2 linked regions of the Homo sapiens genome follow. Each later gene encodes a partner of the first gene's protein in a complex. Each region holds a gene or a part of one and is shown on either strand. Other genes may lie near its edges. A codon is read from its position in the direction of its gene.

The links. Proteins that work in one complex are often made in the same cells at the same time.
Region 2: the proteins of IREB2 (region 1) and FBXL5 are in contact, whole or in part, in a cryo-EM structure (PDB 6VCD), measured with the Homo sapiens proteins. Residues at the interface, in NP_004127.2 of Homo sapiens: Asp89, Phe90, Ser129, Asn217, Val220, Glu221, Arg224, Arg228, Ala758, Gly759, Ser760, Arg763, Asn764, Thr777, Pro778, Arg779, Asn782, Ser783, Tyr784, Gly785, Ala786, Arg788; in NP_036293.1 of Homo sapiens: Asp656, Glu657, Tyr661, Cys662, Asp663, Asn664, Ile665, His669 (codon at 4,565), Ala670 (codon at 4,568), Asp671 (codon at 4,571), Thr672 (codon at 4,574), Ala673 (codon at 4,577), Ser674 (codon at 4,580), Gly675 (codon at 4,583), Cys676 (codon at 4,586), Gln677 (codon at 4,589), Asn678 (codon at 4,592), Leu679 (codon at 4,595), Gln680 (codon at 4,598), Cys687 (codon at 4,619), Arg688 (codon at 4,622), Ser689 (codon at 4,625), Gly690 (codon at 4,628), Glu691 (codon at 4,631).

What each region holds. Positions count from the first base shown.
Region 1 is NC_000015.10:78,433,769-78,441,215, forward strand, and holds the start of IREB2 (iron-responsive element-binding protein 2), read left to right. Parts: upstream 1-4,447; 5' UTR 4,448-4,569; coding exon 4,570-4,588; intron 4,589-4,652; exon of another isoform or gene 4,653-5,088; intron 5,089-6,026; coding exon 6,027-6,113; intron 6,114-7,447. UniProt on the Homo sapiens protein: RNA-binding protein that binds to iron-responsive elements (IRES), which are stem-loop structures found in the 5'-UTR of ferritin, and delta aminolevulinic acid synthase mRNAs, and in the 3'-UTR of transferrin receptor mRNA.
Region 2 is NC_000004.12:15,603,855-15,610,358, reverse strand, and holds the end of FBXL5 (F-box/LRR-repeat protein 5), read left to right. Parts: intron 1-4,559; coding exon 4,560-4,636; 3' UTR 4,637-5,978; downstream 5,979-6,504.

The sequences.
Region 1 (7,447 bases):
GCAGTGGCTCATACCTGTAATCCCAGCACTTTGGGAGGCCAAGGTGGGCAGACAGCTTGAGTACAGAAGTCGAGACCAGCCTAAGGAACATAGGAAAACCCTGTCTCTACAAAAAATACCAAAATTAGCTGGGCATGGTGGCGTGCGCCTGTGGTCCCAGGAACTCAGGGGCTGAGGTGGGAGAATTACTTGAGCCCAGGAGATGGAGGTTGCAGTGAGTCGAGATCACCCCACTGCACTCCAACCTGGGCAACACAGTGAGACTCTCTCTCAAAAAAAAAAAAGGAGAGGTGAACCAGCCTGGACATTGCCCGAGACACTGATCTAAAAGGGTGCTAAAATCTCACTGGAAATGTAACTTGAAAAAAAATGTATAGTGAAAACATACCATAAGCTTCCATTTGCATAGCATTCAAAATAGGGTGTAGGGGATGAGGAAATGGCAGCCTAGGAGGAAAACAGCTGCGGTTATAAAACGGCAACAGGAAGGATCCTTGGAAATGTTCCATATCTTGACTGTAGTGATGGCCACACAAAGCCACACACGTGAACTAAATACACACGTGCATGTGCGCGCACACACACACACACACACACACACCCTACAAAGGAGTACATGTAGAACTGCCTAAATCTGAGTAAGGTGGAATGATTGTATGAATGTCAATTTGCTCGTTTTTATATTGTACTATGCTACATGGAGAAAGACTAGGTGAAGAGTATACGGGATCTTTATTACTTAGTACAACTACATGTAAATCTACAATTGTCACAAAATAAGAATGTTTAACAATAGGTAAATTTTATGATATTTAAACTAAATCTCAATAAAACTGTTAAAGCTGACTGAGATGGCATATGCCTGTAGTCCCAGCTACTTGGGAGGCTGAGGTGGGAGAATCCCTTGAACTCAGGAGTTTGAGATCGGTCCAGGCCAAATAAACAGACCTCTGTCTTAAAATAAATAAAATTTTCAAAAAGTAAATAAAACTGTTAAAAAAAAAAAAAAAGTAATGAGTCCAGCCACACGGGAGCATATCATGATTGTTCTAAGTTAGTGCTTCTCAGTGGAAGCGGGACACTGAGAAAATGGGTGTTTTTGTTTGTCACCATCATGGGGCACTTTTGGGATTCAATGAATGTTAGATTGCCTGCATTCCACACTATAGAATTACACAACAAAGAATCAAACAAGGGCCAGGCCCGGTGGCTCACGCCTGTAATCCCAGCACTTTGGGAAGCTGAGATGGGCGGATCACGAGGTCAGGAGTTCAAGACCAGCCTGGCCAACATGGTAAAACCCTGTCTCTACTAAAAATATAAAACTTAGCTGGGCATGATGGCACGTGCCTGTATTCCCAGCTACTCAGGAGGCTGAGGCAGGAGAATTGCTTGAACCGGGACCCGAGGGGCGGAGGTTGCAGTGAGCCAAGATCATGTCACTGCACTCCAGCCTGGGCTACAGAGCAAGACTCCGTCTCAAAAAAAAAAAGAATCAAACAAGACCCATACTGTCAGATATTCAAGTACATTAAACATACACACAAACATAAAAACAGTAACAACAAATTTGTTTATAATTATCTGAGCCTAGAGTTTAACCCCATATACAAGTAAAAACAAAAGTAATTTGTGTATGGTTTTAATATATACGGAATTTTCTAGGAATACAACTATTGCATAAAAAAAGCAAAGGTTTTTTTTTTTTGTTTTGAACTTTATCAAGAGTTATTCACCATTTCAGAAAATCACAATAGTGACAACACTTCCAATATTTAAGTCACTAACATATTTTCATTAGTCTTTAGAGGCCATTCATGATATATATGTACATTTTATACATATGTGCATTTACCATATATGCATTCATAATATATATTTATGCATGATATGTATGTATATATTGAATCCTTATTTTGCAATGTCAGACATAAAAAGTGTTGACCATATTCAGCTGAATATTATCTTTTTTTTTTTGAGACGAAGTCTTGCATTGTTGCCCAGGCTGGAGTTCAGTGGTGAAATCTCGGCTCACTGCAAGCTCCGCCTCCTGGGTTCACGCCATTCTCCTGCCTCAGCCTCCCGAGTAGCTGGGGCTACAGGCGCCTGCCACCACGCCCGGGTAATTTTTTGTACTTTTAGTAGAGACGGGGTTTCACCGTGTTAGCCAGGATGATCTCCCATCTCCTGACCTCGTGATCCGCCCGCCTCAGCCTCCCGAAGTGCTGGGATTACAGGCGTGAGCCACCGCCCCGGCCTTATCTTTTTTTGAGACAGGGTTTCATTCTGTCTCCCAGGTTGGAGTGCAGTGGCACAATCATAGCTCACTGTAATCTTGAATTTCTGGGCTCAAGTGATCCTCCTGCCTCTGTCTCACGGTAGCTGGTACTACAGGCATGCACCACTATGTCTGGCTAACTCTTTAAGTTTTTGTAGAGACAGGGTCTCACCATGTTGCCCAGGCTAGTCTCAAACTCCTAGCATCAAGCGATCCTGCAGCTTTGGCTTCCCAAAGTGCTGGGATTACAAGCTTGAGCTACCAACTGTGCCTGGCCCAGTCGAATATTATATGTCCTGTAAAACCAAACTCATTCGTTATAAATAGATACAAGCATCTGACTACTCAATTTTGTCATCTAATATAGACATGCCTGTGCAGCTACGTATTATAATACATATTATTTTCTAATAAATTACTTTCCTATTTTTCTCCTTTATATTACAGTTAGGTCATTAAGTAGATTATTTATCGTGTATGTAGATTATATTACCTATGAATTTCATGCTGGGATTGTAAAGGAGATGTTACAAAATATAGCAAGGTGAATAAAGGAAATATATTGGAGTTTGGGTTGACAGGGCTTGGATCAATGATTAAAGGGAGTGGATGAAGGAGTCAGGTATAATGTGTTGATTTCTGGCTTGGGCAACCAGGTGGATGGTGGCGCCATTCGCTAATACAGGCAATACAAAAGGAATAGTAGGTTTAAGGAGGGAAATGACGAGTTCAGTTTTGGAGATTTTTAGTTTGAGGTGCCTTGGGATGTGGAGGCATCCCATGGGTACTAGGATATACACCTCCGGGTTTAGGAGATAGGCTCAGGTCACAGGCAGACTGGGAAGCATCAACATATTAACTAATAACTGAAGTCAAAGGAAGTGTGAGATGGGCCAGGGAAAATGGACAGAGGGAGGAGGTACAAGGCCAGAGCCCTGGGACACATTTAATGTCCAATATATTTTTTTTTGAGACAGGGTCTTGCTGTGTTGCTCAGGCTGGAGTGCAGTGGTGCAATCATGGCTCACCACAGCCTCAATCTCCTGGGCCCAAGTGATCCTCCCACCTCAGCCTCCTGAGTAGCTGAGACTACAGGTGCATGCCACCACACTCAGCTAATTTTTAAATTTTTTTTGTAGAGATAGGGTCTCACTACGTTGCTGTGTTTGGTCTTGAACTTTTCAGCTCAAGCCATCCTCCCACTTTGGCCTCCTAAAGTGCTGGAATTACAGGCATGAGCTACTGTGCCCATCAAGTGCCCAGTACATTTAAAAGCTGGGCGGAGGAAGAGGTCTGCAGAGGAGCCTGAGATCAAGCACCCTTAGGAGAAGAAACAAAAGTAGAGTCTGAAGTCACAGAAGCTGATGGAAGAGTATTTTTCAACAATGGGAGAGAACCAGTCAAGATTGAGATATGTGAGATTAGAAAGTGGAGTTATAGCTGGCCTTGGCTAAAGGCATTTCTGGGAGTGGAAGCCAGACTGGAAGAGGATAAGAAGTGGGTGGGGGAGAGCCGAGTATGAGCGACTCTTTCTGGTAAGTTGCTGCGACAGGAGATAATGCTGGGTAGGTGGAGAACACAGGGACCGGAGGAGCTGAGGCGGAAGGATGGAGAGGCTTAAGCATGTGTTAACTGCCACTGGGAAGAAGTCGGCAATCACGGAAGCTACCGGAGGGTAAGAAAAAATTCATTCATTCAACAGTTGAGCGCCTCCCACGCGCCCGATCAGTATGGCCGCCCCCACTTGAAAACACGCGTGTGGGCCGCCCACGTCTGACAAGTTAATGCAAGGCTTTATAGTTAGGGGAAAGCGGTTCTCCTTGAGCTCTTTCTCCTAGCAGTTCCGATTCCGACCCTGACTCCAACAGACACCTTGCGGGAACGCAAACACCGCTCGAATTCATGACCCCAATAGAAAACTTAAGGCCGCAACTAAGTAACGGATCGCTGCGAAGGCCAAACTAGCCACGCCAACGCCCCCACTGGAGCCTCCCCAGCGCTCCGCCCCCGCTCGCGAGAACAGCGGCGACGGCGCGAGAAATCGCTTTCTGGTTAGCTCCGCCCCTTCCCTTTCTTTGTTTTCCTGTCCGACGATCTCGCGGGAGTTAGGCGACAAATCCCGCGAGCGCAGACCCGGGGCTGGCTCTGCTGCTCTCGCGATATTTGCGCGAGCCTGCTTCCTTCTTTCCTCCCTTGCCAGTCCGCCTGTCTTCCTCCCCGTCTTCCCTGCCCGGCCTCCCCCTTCTTCCCCCGCTGGCCCCCTCCCCGGAGGGATAATATGGTCTCCGGCGATGGACGCCCCAAAAGCAGGTCAGTTTCGGGCCTCCGAGCTGGGTCTGGCAGTTGGAAACGCGCGCTGCCTAGGCGCCGAATTCCTTGCTTTTCTCGCCTGGAGTCGCTCGGCAGGCGCCCAGGCCCTCGGGGCTCGGGTTGTGCTCCCCTCGGGGCCTGCCTGCTGGGCCGCCCTTTGAGCCTAGGCCGCGGAAGCTGGGGCTCCCGATCCCCACCCTCCTGCGCGACACCCGCAGGGCGGGCCACCCCACCGCTGGCCTTGACCCGCACCCCTCTCTCTCCGGTGGCCGCTGCCTGCTGCCAGCGGCTTCCTGGCCCCCGTCAGCAACACCAGGGGCAGGGAGAGGCCCACCGTCTTCTCCTGCCCGCCCCCCATTGGCGAGCGATGAAGGCGGGGGCCTGCGTCTCCGTGTTCGGGTCTCACGCAGCTAGATGTTGATTCCACGGTCCAGCCTAAGGCCCCTCAGTCTCTCTGTGCCTCTGGAAGCCGAATGAGGGGCAGTCAAGGTTGAACATTGGTCAGTCAGTTCTCCGACCATTTATTGCACCGCTGTCTCCTCCCCCGTCCACCTCCCTCTACAAAAAAAAAAAAAGAGAAAAAAATACTATTCATTCTGAAAATGGGCTGTGCTTATGTTTTCTCCTTTTGGATGAAAGCCTTAACAATGTTGAGGGTCCTGGCCACCCACCGCTATGAGTCTGCACAAAAGATCTGAAGGTTCTTTTCAACCTCAGGGCTGCCTCCCCGCCACTGCCCCCTAGAATGTTGGGAGCTGAGGCACGTTTAAATGAGACCTCTGGATCTTTGACTTAGTAGTTCAGCTTCAGTTCGTGCAAAACCAGAAGACTTGTCTCTTTCGGGTAGAATATGCTAATTTCCTAGAGATTCTGTTACTTTTATTTTCAGTACTAAGCCCTGGTAAGGACTTAACTGAGAAGTTTTTTTGTTTTGGTTTATTGAATGCTCTGTAAAAATCCGTCTTTTAGTTTTTTTTTTTAATCAGTCCCTCTAATGTTAATTGTGGAATTCACAAATTCCTGTCTCTGCAGTTTTCAAGACATGTCTTTCCAAAACGTCCCCGTGGATTATTTAAATCATTCTTATTGTCCCTTTCCAGGTATTCTTATCACATTTCAGGAGTGAATTATCTTACTAGTTTTTACTTGACAAATTATGGTTTAGAACTATGCTTTCCAGTGTGGTGGATACTAGCCCTGTGTGACTTTAAATTAATCAAAATTAAATAAATTAAAAATTCAGTTCCTCAGGCACGATAGCCACATTTCAGGTGCTCAATAGCCACACGTTGCTAATGGCTACTTTACTGGACAGCTCAAACATAGAATATTTTTACCATTGCAGAAAATTCTATTGGATAAAGCTAGTTTCCAGGTATTTTCAGCTGAATAAAATATTTTGTTGCTGCATTTAATGAAAATACAATTTTTTTTTCAGGATACGCCTTTGAGTACCTTATTGAAACATTAAATGACAGTTCACATAAGAAGTTCTTCGATGTATCTAAACTTGGCACCAAGTATGGTAATGTTGCTTTACATTTTCTTGGGTTTGTTTAGTCTCTAATAATGAAAATGCATTTGTCAAGCTGAGCTGAAGAAATTTTAAATGTATTTCCACCGTATTGTAACAGGTACACCTACACATACCTATACCATTTTAAAAACTCCTCCTGGGACAACTTCTGTTCAGGGAAGATGTAGGCCCACACCTTAACTTCTCATTTAAAAATCTAAGTTAATTAAGCACTAGTTTTTCCCCTCAAAGAAACCAATAATGCAGTTTTCAAACTTTTTTTTTTCTTGTTTTTGTGAAGACAGGGGTCTTGCTATGTTACCCAGGCTAGTTTTGAACCCCTGGGCCCAAATAATCCTCCCACCTCTGCCTCCCCAAGTTTTGGGATTACACATGTAAGCTACTGCGCCTGGCCTAATGTGATTTTTAGAAGAACCTGACTGACTGATGATAATTCTACACCAATTAAATGTATATTTTATTTTCTCTTTTCTTTTCTTTTTTTTTTTGAGACAGAGTCTTGCTCTGTTGCCCAGGCTAGAGCACAGTGTTGTGATCATAGCTCATACAGCCTTGAACTCCTGGGCTAAAGCAGTCCTGCCTCTGCCTCCCAAGTAACAAGGCCTACAGGTGTATGCCAACACATTTATATAAAAACATATTTTTATATTTTTTGTAGAGTTGGGGTCTTGCTGTGTTGCCCAGACTAGTCTCAGACTCCTGACCTTAAGTGATGCATCTGCCTCAGCCTCACAAAGTATTGGGATTGCAGGCCTGAGCCACTATGCCTGGCCTGTTTTACTTTGTCAAATGAACAGTGCCCACATCTATTCTTTTTGCCATCTGTTGAATAGGAATCACCAACAGGACCCATTGATTTGAATTTTTCTGAAGTATTGGGCATGGTTTGCCCCAACCTACACACCTGCAGTTTTGGCAGACATTCTCATTGACCTTATCAGGGTCAAACCTTTCTCTGTGGTCTCAGAAGAGTGAATGTGGGCGACCTATAGGGCATTGAATGGAAGTTTTGACTTTACTAACAGTTGAGTAACTTTCTCAATTGGGCCAATAGAGAGACCTCTTTAGAAGACTCATTATTCTTTGTGAACTTTTCCATGACAATGACATGAAAAGATAAATTGAATGCCACATCTGTTGCAGTCAGTTTTGGAAGGAGCTTTAATCTTGTTTTTTCTTGCATTATTTAATTAAGACGATTGTTCTTGTGATTTTTCTGTAGATTTTGAGGAATTTAAATATTCTTGACTGCTATGTGCAATATTTTTTGTGTATTGTGAAATACAGCTATTTTGGAGTATCTTAAAGAATCCCCATTTTAG
Region 2 (6,504 bases), on another chromosome or scaffold:
AAGCCTTTAAAATTTACAGGGTGACTTGTTAAATAACTTGTGTCTGAGTTCCACATAGGTTGTTCTTAAAGCAATGCTCTCTCATAGTCTTTTCCTTAAAAGGATATGTGGACAACCTAGAAAGTGTTAGAAAGAAGTTGTGTTGTATCCAGTTTTGCAAGATGACACTTGTTCCAGTATCTTTCAAAACAGCTCAGCTTGTACAGTAGATATCTAGTGAATGCTCAGGGGCATCCTTGTTACTATTTTTATTATTTCTGAAAGTAGTGTGTTTTAATACGTGGTATTAGAGCAATGGAGAAGTGTATTTAGGTGACAAATTATATTTCAAATATTTGAAAGTGACGTTTAGCTAAAAATATATTTTTTAAAAGAAAACATATATAGTTAACTATCAGGTTACTAAATGTAAAAGAAGTTAATACTGATAAACATTAGTCATTAAGTAATACATGATAAGTAAAGCAGAATGATCTATTTTCCAAGCATTAGCAGAGATTTTGGAGATAATAAGTTAGTTATCATATATTCAAACAGTGCCCAGTACAGTGCAAGACACTGTACATAAAGTGTCTTGATATAAAATGCAAGTCTAGATTCTTCTGAATGATTCTTTATGACTTTTAAATTTATTTGATAAGATTTGAAAAGTCTTCTTAGCCATAACATTAAAAAATTTCTTTAACATTTAAGAAGTGTTAAATGGAATAGCATAGTTGTAGAGCTGTGAAGAACATTTGAGCAATGATAGCAAATAAACTTTTTTACTGATTTGCATTTCAATGTATGTATAATTTATAAATTAAGATAGATTAGCTCATAGTTTTGGAGGTGACACAGTCTCAGATGATGTGCTCTTTTATGTTTCTAATTTAAGTTAAAGAGGAATTAAAGGTAAGTGAAGGTAAGTGCAGATATACAGCATAAGTAATATACTTAGAACTCAGTAAAAACAAGTTATTCAATAATAAAAGTCTGGAGAAATAATAGCTAACCTTATACTTCCTATCATCTGATACTTAAAAATGCTTTCTTATAAGATTATTCTTTACCACGCATTTAAATATTTTAATGATTATTCAATTATATTTTTCTATTTTCTTTATTATTCCTTAATGTAATTTAGGCTTTATATATCTTAACCATTTGGGTTCTGTGTCCTACATCGAGATGGAAGTTTGCTGGTGATAAGTCAAATATTTAAAGGGAACTACCTTGTGAATTATCTTCGTCTGTTAAAGCATAGCTGTCTACCTGGCAATCCATCATATCTTAGTCATATTTCTTTCTAGTTTTCCCTCACCTTTTCTGTTGTCCATTTATTCTGTTGTCCATTTATTCACTTCTCTGAACAGTCCTTCTGTGTTACTTAAGGATTTTATTGTTAATGTTGCTTATACTTTCCATGCTTTGGAAGGTGTTAGTCTCCTGTTTTCTACAATGTGATACTGAGTTTAAAACAGTGCTTGTCTTCATTTTTGTTTTGGCTCAGGCCTTCAGCAGATCCTTTAATGGGTGCTGTCACTTTCATGATTATTGGGATCAAATACCAGTAACTACTCTTATTATTTACCTTATCATAGGATTGTAGTTTTGAGTCATTTAATACTATAGTTACTGATTAAGTTCATATAGCCTTCTTTAAACAGATTCTGCTTTCAAATTTGAAAACAATATATTCTCTCTCTTCACTCTGTATACTTAGAATCTCACTGAAACTCAATTCTGGTGAACTTAAAATGTATTCAGAGTTCTTGCCTATATTCATATAAAATGTGTCTACTCACTGAGTAGACACATTTTATATGAATATAGGCAGGAACTTTGTTTTGTGATAAATAAGGAGATGCTGACAGTAGGTTTGTGCTTTTTACCTAATACAGGGTAAAAACTTTTATTTCTACATTTTTCTTCCCCCATTATCTCTGCCACCATCCCTTAGACTTCAGGAGCATAATGACCCAGGTAGCTAGGGTGGAAACTGAGCATGTGGACCCTACATCTTTTGGGGAGGGTGGTGAAAAACTGTGTCATGTCAGGTTAGATCTGAATCTCTAGGAGAATAGCTTTTTTGATCTGTTTGCTCCTTTGAGTCTCCCTTTTACTTTATCCTTTGAAAACCAATTGCATACTTCACTTCCATTGCTTCCAGATATGGCATATTTTTCTTAGGCTACTGTTGAAATTTAGCATAATATTTCTCCCTTACCTTTCTGTCCTTTTAAAAAAATAGGACTATAGTAAGTCCTCCGTGTCGGTGGTATGTTTTTGGAAACTGACTTTAAAGAAAACATACAGGAAGTCCTCAAATAGTGTCATTTCATTATAATGATGCAAACAAAACAACTACCTTTGTTATACGTTATTTTGCTTAGAGTCGCAGTTTCTAAGAACCTATCGATGTTAAGTGAGGACTTAATGGTATAGACATTTTGAAATATTTGAGGGAGTTGCAGTTTGGAAAAATTGTATAGAGTCTTCATGTCTCTTCTTATTTCTTTAAAAAAATTTAGAATGGAATTTTAATCTGATAAAATGATAATCAGATCCATTTTGGCAAAACCCAGTGAATCTGGCATTTCATGATGGACCTAAGGGTCAGAGCAGGAGAATGGCAGTGAGGCAGGGCTTGTGTCTTGAGGAGAGGCACTAGGTGATTGGTAGACAAAACAGTGGGCAGTGTAAGGGGTGAGGAAAGACAAGCTAAGAAGGGGAATAATGGGGATTGGGTGGTGCACAGTGGGTAAAGCTGGCATTATATTCAAAGGAAAAACTTGGTTAAAGATTGGCAGTGGGAGAAGAATTTCAGATCATAGGGTTGCTTCTCAGGGCATTTTTAATAAGTATTCAATATATACTAAAACATTTTATCTTGAGTTTGTGATTAAGATGATTAACATTGTTTCTTATTTTAAGGGAAAATAATTTTAACAAAATGCTGCTTTGTGAATTTTAAATATTTAACATATTTAACTTCTCATTTAAAGACCAGAAAAGATTGTTATTTTGATTAAATAAAAATTGGCTTTAGTAATTCAACTTTATATTTAAAATAATTTTAAACTTCCTGTTATGGAAAAATTTAACATCGAATAATACAACGAATCCTCATGTACCATCAGCTTCAGCAGTTATAAACCTGTGGGCAGTCTCCTTTCATCTATACCATTGCTCATTCCCATATCTACTCCGCCATTAAGCTAATCACAGGTGTCATATCAACTTAAAAATTAATATGACTGAAAGCATAAGCTGTTGTAGTTCCACATATTTGCGTAATGTTTATTAGTTTCTTTCCTAAGACTGTATGTCTTAAGAAATTTGCCCTTTGTATTTTGTATGTGCCATTTGGGGAATATAAGGAAAAGTTAAATTTCTGGAAATTAATGTGTTCTATGTGTTTAGTTGGAAGTAATTGTTATGGTAGTATTAGCTTACTTGCTTTTTTGTTGTTGTTGTTGCAGCCGAGTGCTGTTTTAGAAAATAAAAAGTAAATTTAAAATGTGTTTTTGAGTTAAGCTAGATATCACCCCAGAGTACTGTGATTTTTCAGTTACAATCCATTTGATATATTCTGCAGTAAAATTATATTTCATGTACAGTTTTCATTTTGTATTGTTCCTTATATCACAATTGCAAGTATTTTGGTTGTTCTTGTTGATATGTAAAGAACAAATTAACTACTCCTTATTTGTTCATGGTATAGACATAATGAAAGACTTCAATATAGTTGAAACAATCTTTTCCACATTTGCCTGCTTTTATGAAAATATCATTCATTCAGAGTACTTGACATTTGAATATGTGCTGTGAAACTTCTTCTTTGATATTTTCTAATTCTCAGCTATGTTCCCTAATGGGTCTTGTATCTAGTGCCTGGGTAGCATAGTGTGACTGGGATAAAATGTCAGTTATTCCACAGATTTTTTTTTATTCTTTGTAAGTGAATGATAATTTTTACTATGGCTACAGTTTAATTGATCACTCATTATATATTTAATTTTGGAAAATAATTTCATCTAACCCTACCATATATAGATATTTTTGGCTACAAATACTAAATAAAAATATGGCAAATATATTAAATCTTTGTCTATATAGTTTATTTTGCTTTAAAATTTGAAGATAATATTTATTGTAATTGCTCAATACTGACTTCTTTAGCTGATCGATTATAGTTAGGGCTGTTTTTTGCCTTTATTACATTTCTAGGGAGGATGTTCAGATTATAAGAATCTTTTTATAAGTTAGCTTGGCAATCTTGCTTCTGTGGATTGTCTCATTTCCATTTTGGATTTTTATATTGTAAGTTGTTGCTAAAAATTATTTTTTTCCCTTCTTCCACTTACCTTTTGGACCATGAAGGATATATTAATTAAAGTCAAGCTGCTATTGAGTTTTGTGTCTGAATAATTTCTTATACACTTATCATGAGATTTACTTCTATCATATAAGTACTGCTAGTAAAACCAATGAATGTTTAACTCCTTCATAAGCAAAATTATTTTTATGTGATCTCTAAGAAATTCCTCCTTTCACATTTTTCTGTTTTCATACAGGTCCTCATGCTGATACCGCCAGTGGATGCCAGAATTTGCAGTGTGGTTTTCGAGCCTGCTGCCGCTCTGGCGAATGACCCTTGACTTCTGATCTTTGTCTACTTCATTTAGCTGAGCAGGCTTTCTTTCATGCACTTTACTCATAGCACATTTCTTGTGTTAACCATCCCTTTTTGAGCGTGACTTGTTTTGGCCCCATTTCTTACAACTTCAGAAATCTTAATTTACCAGTGAATTGTAATGTTGTTTCTCTTGCAAATTATACTTTTGGTTTAGAAAGGGATTAGGTCTTTTCAAAAGGGTGAGAACAGTCTTACATTTTTCTTTTAAATGAAATGCTTTAAAGAATGTTGGTAATGCCATGTCATTTAAAGTATTTCATAGATAATTTTGAGTTTTAAAGTCCATGGAGGTGATTGGTTCTCTTTACACATTAACACTGTACCAAGCTTTGCAGATCTTTTCCGACACACATGTCTGAAGACTTATTTTCAAAGACAGCACATTTTTGGAAACTAATCTCTTTTCCGTAATATTTCCTTTATTTCAATGATTCTCAGAAGGCCAATTCAAACAAACCCACATTTAAGGTTCTTTAGGATTATAGAATAAATTGGCTTCTGAGTGTTAGCTCAGTGAGCTAGGAAAGCACCAATCGATATTTGTTTCCTTTAGGGATACTTTGTTCTCACCACTGTCCCTATGTCATCAAATTTGGGAGAGATTTTTTAAAATACCACAATCATTTGAAGAAATGTATAAATAAAATCTACTTTGAGGACTTTACCAAGTAATACTGTTGTGTTGTGATTTTTATTATAAATCTCAATCCAGGTTTACTTTAGTATAGAATAGGACTACATACTTTGTCTTTGGACCTCCCATGAACTTATTACCCTGACAAATAGTTTTAGACAGATACTGAATTTTATTGAGCTGAATTTTCTTTTTGAAATGAGTTATTCAGTAGTCAAAATTTGAATCCGTAAGTATATCTACTTTGCTTTGTTAAAACATCATGAGAGTGGAGGCCTGCCACCCAGAAAGGCACATACTAGTGCCTTTTAGTACAATTTTATGTCATGTAGAAGAAAATGGCAATGTTCCTCCTATTGATACAGATACAGGCATATGTCATCTTATTGCGTTTTGCTTTATTGCACTTTGCAAATAATGCATTTTTTACAAATGGAAGGTTTATGGCAACTCTGCGTTGAGCCAGTCTATTGGTGCCATGTTTCCAATAAAACTTCTCCTTTCATGTCTCGTATATTGTGATAATTCTTGGAGTATTTCATAGTTTTTCACTATTATTAAATCTGTTGTGGTGATCTGTGGCCAGTGATTGTTGTTACTATTGTAATTGCTTTGGAATGCCATGAACTGTGCCCTAATAAGACAGAGAACTTAATTGATAAATATTATGTATGTTCTGATTGCTCCACTGACCAGTGGTTCCTGTCTCTCTCCTCCTCAGACCTCCCTCTTCCTAGAGACACAACAATATTGAAATTAGGCCCCAGCTTATAACCTTGCAGTGGACTTTAAGTGTTGAAGTGAAAGGAAGAGTCATGTCTCTCACTTTAAGTGAAAAGCTAGAAATGATTAGGCTTAGTGAGCAAGGCATGTCGAAAACTTAGGCCCAAATCTACGCTTCTTGTGCCATACAGCAAAGTTGTGAATGCAACAGGAAAGTTCTTGAAGGAAATTAAAAGTGCTACTCCAGTGAACACCCAATGATAAGAAAGTGAAACAGCTTTATTACTGATATGGAGAAAGTTTTAGTGGTCTGGATAAATGAAACTAGCCATAAAATTCCCTTAAGCCAAAGCCTAATTCAGAGTAAGACCCTAACTCTCTTCAATTACATGAAGGCTGAGAGAAGTGAGGAAGCTTCAGAAAAGGTTGAAGCTAGCAGGGGTTGATTCATGAGGTTTAAGGAAAG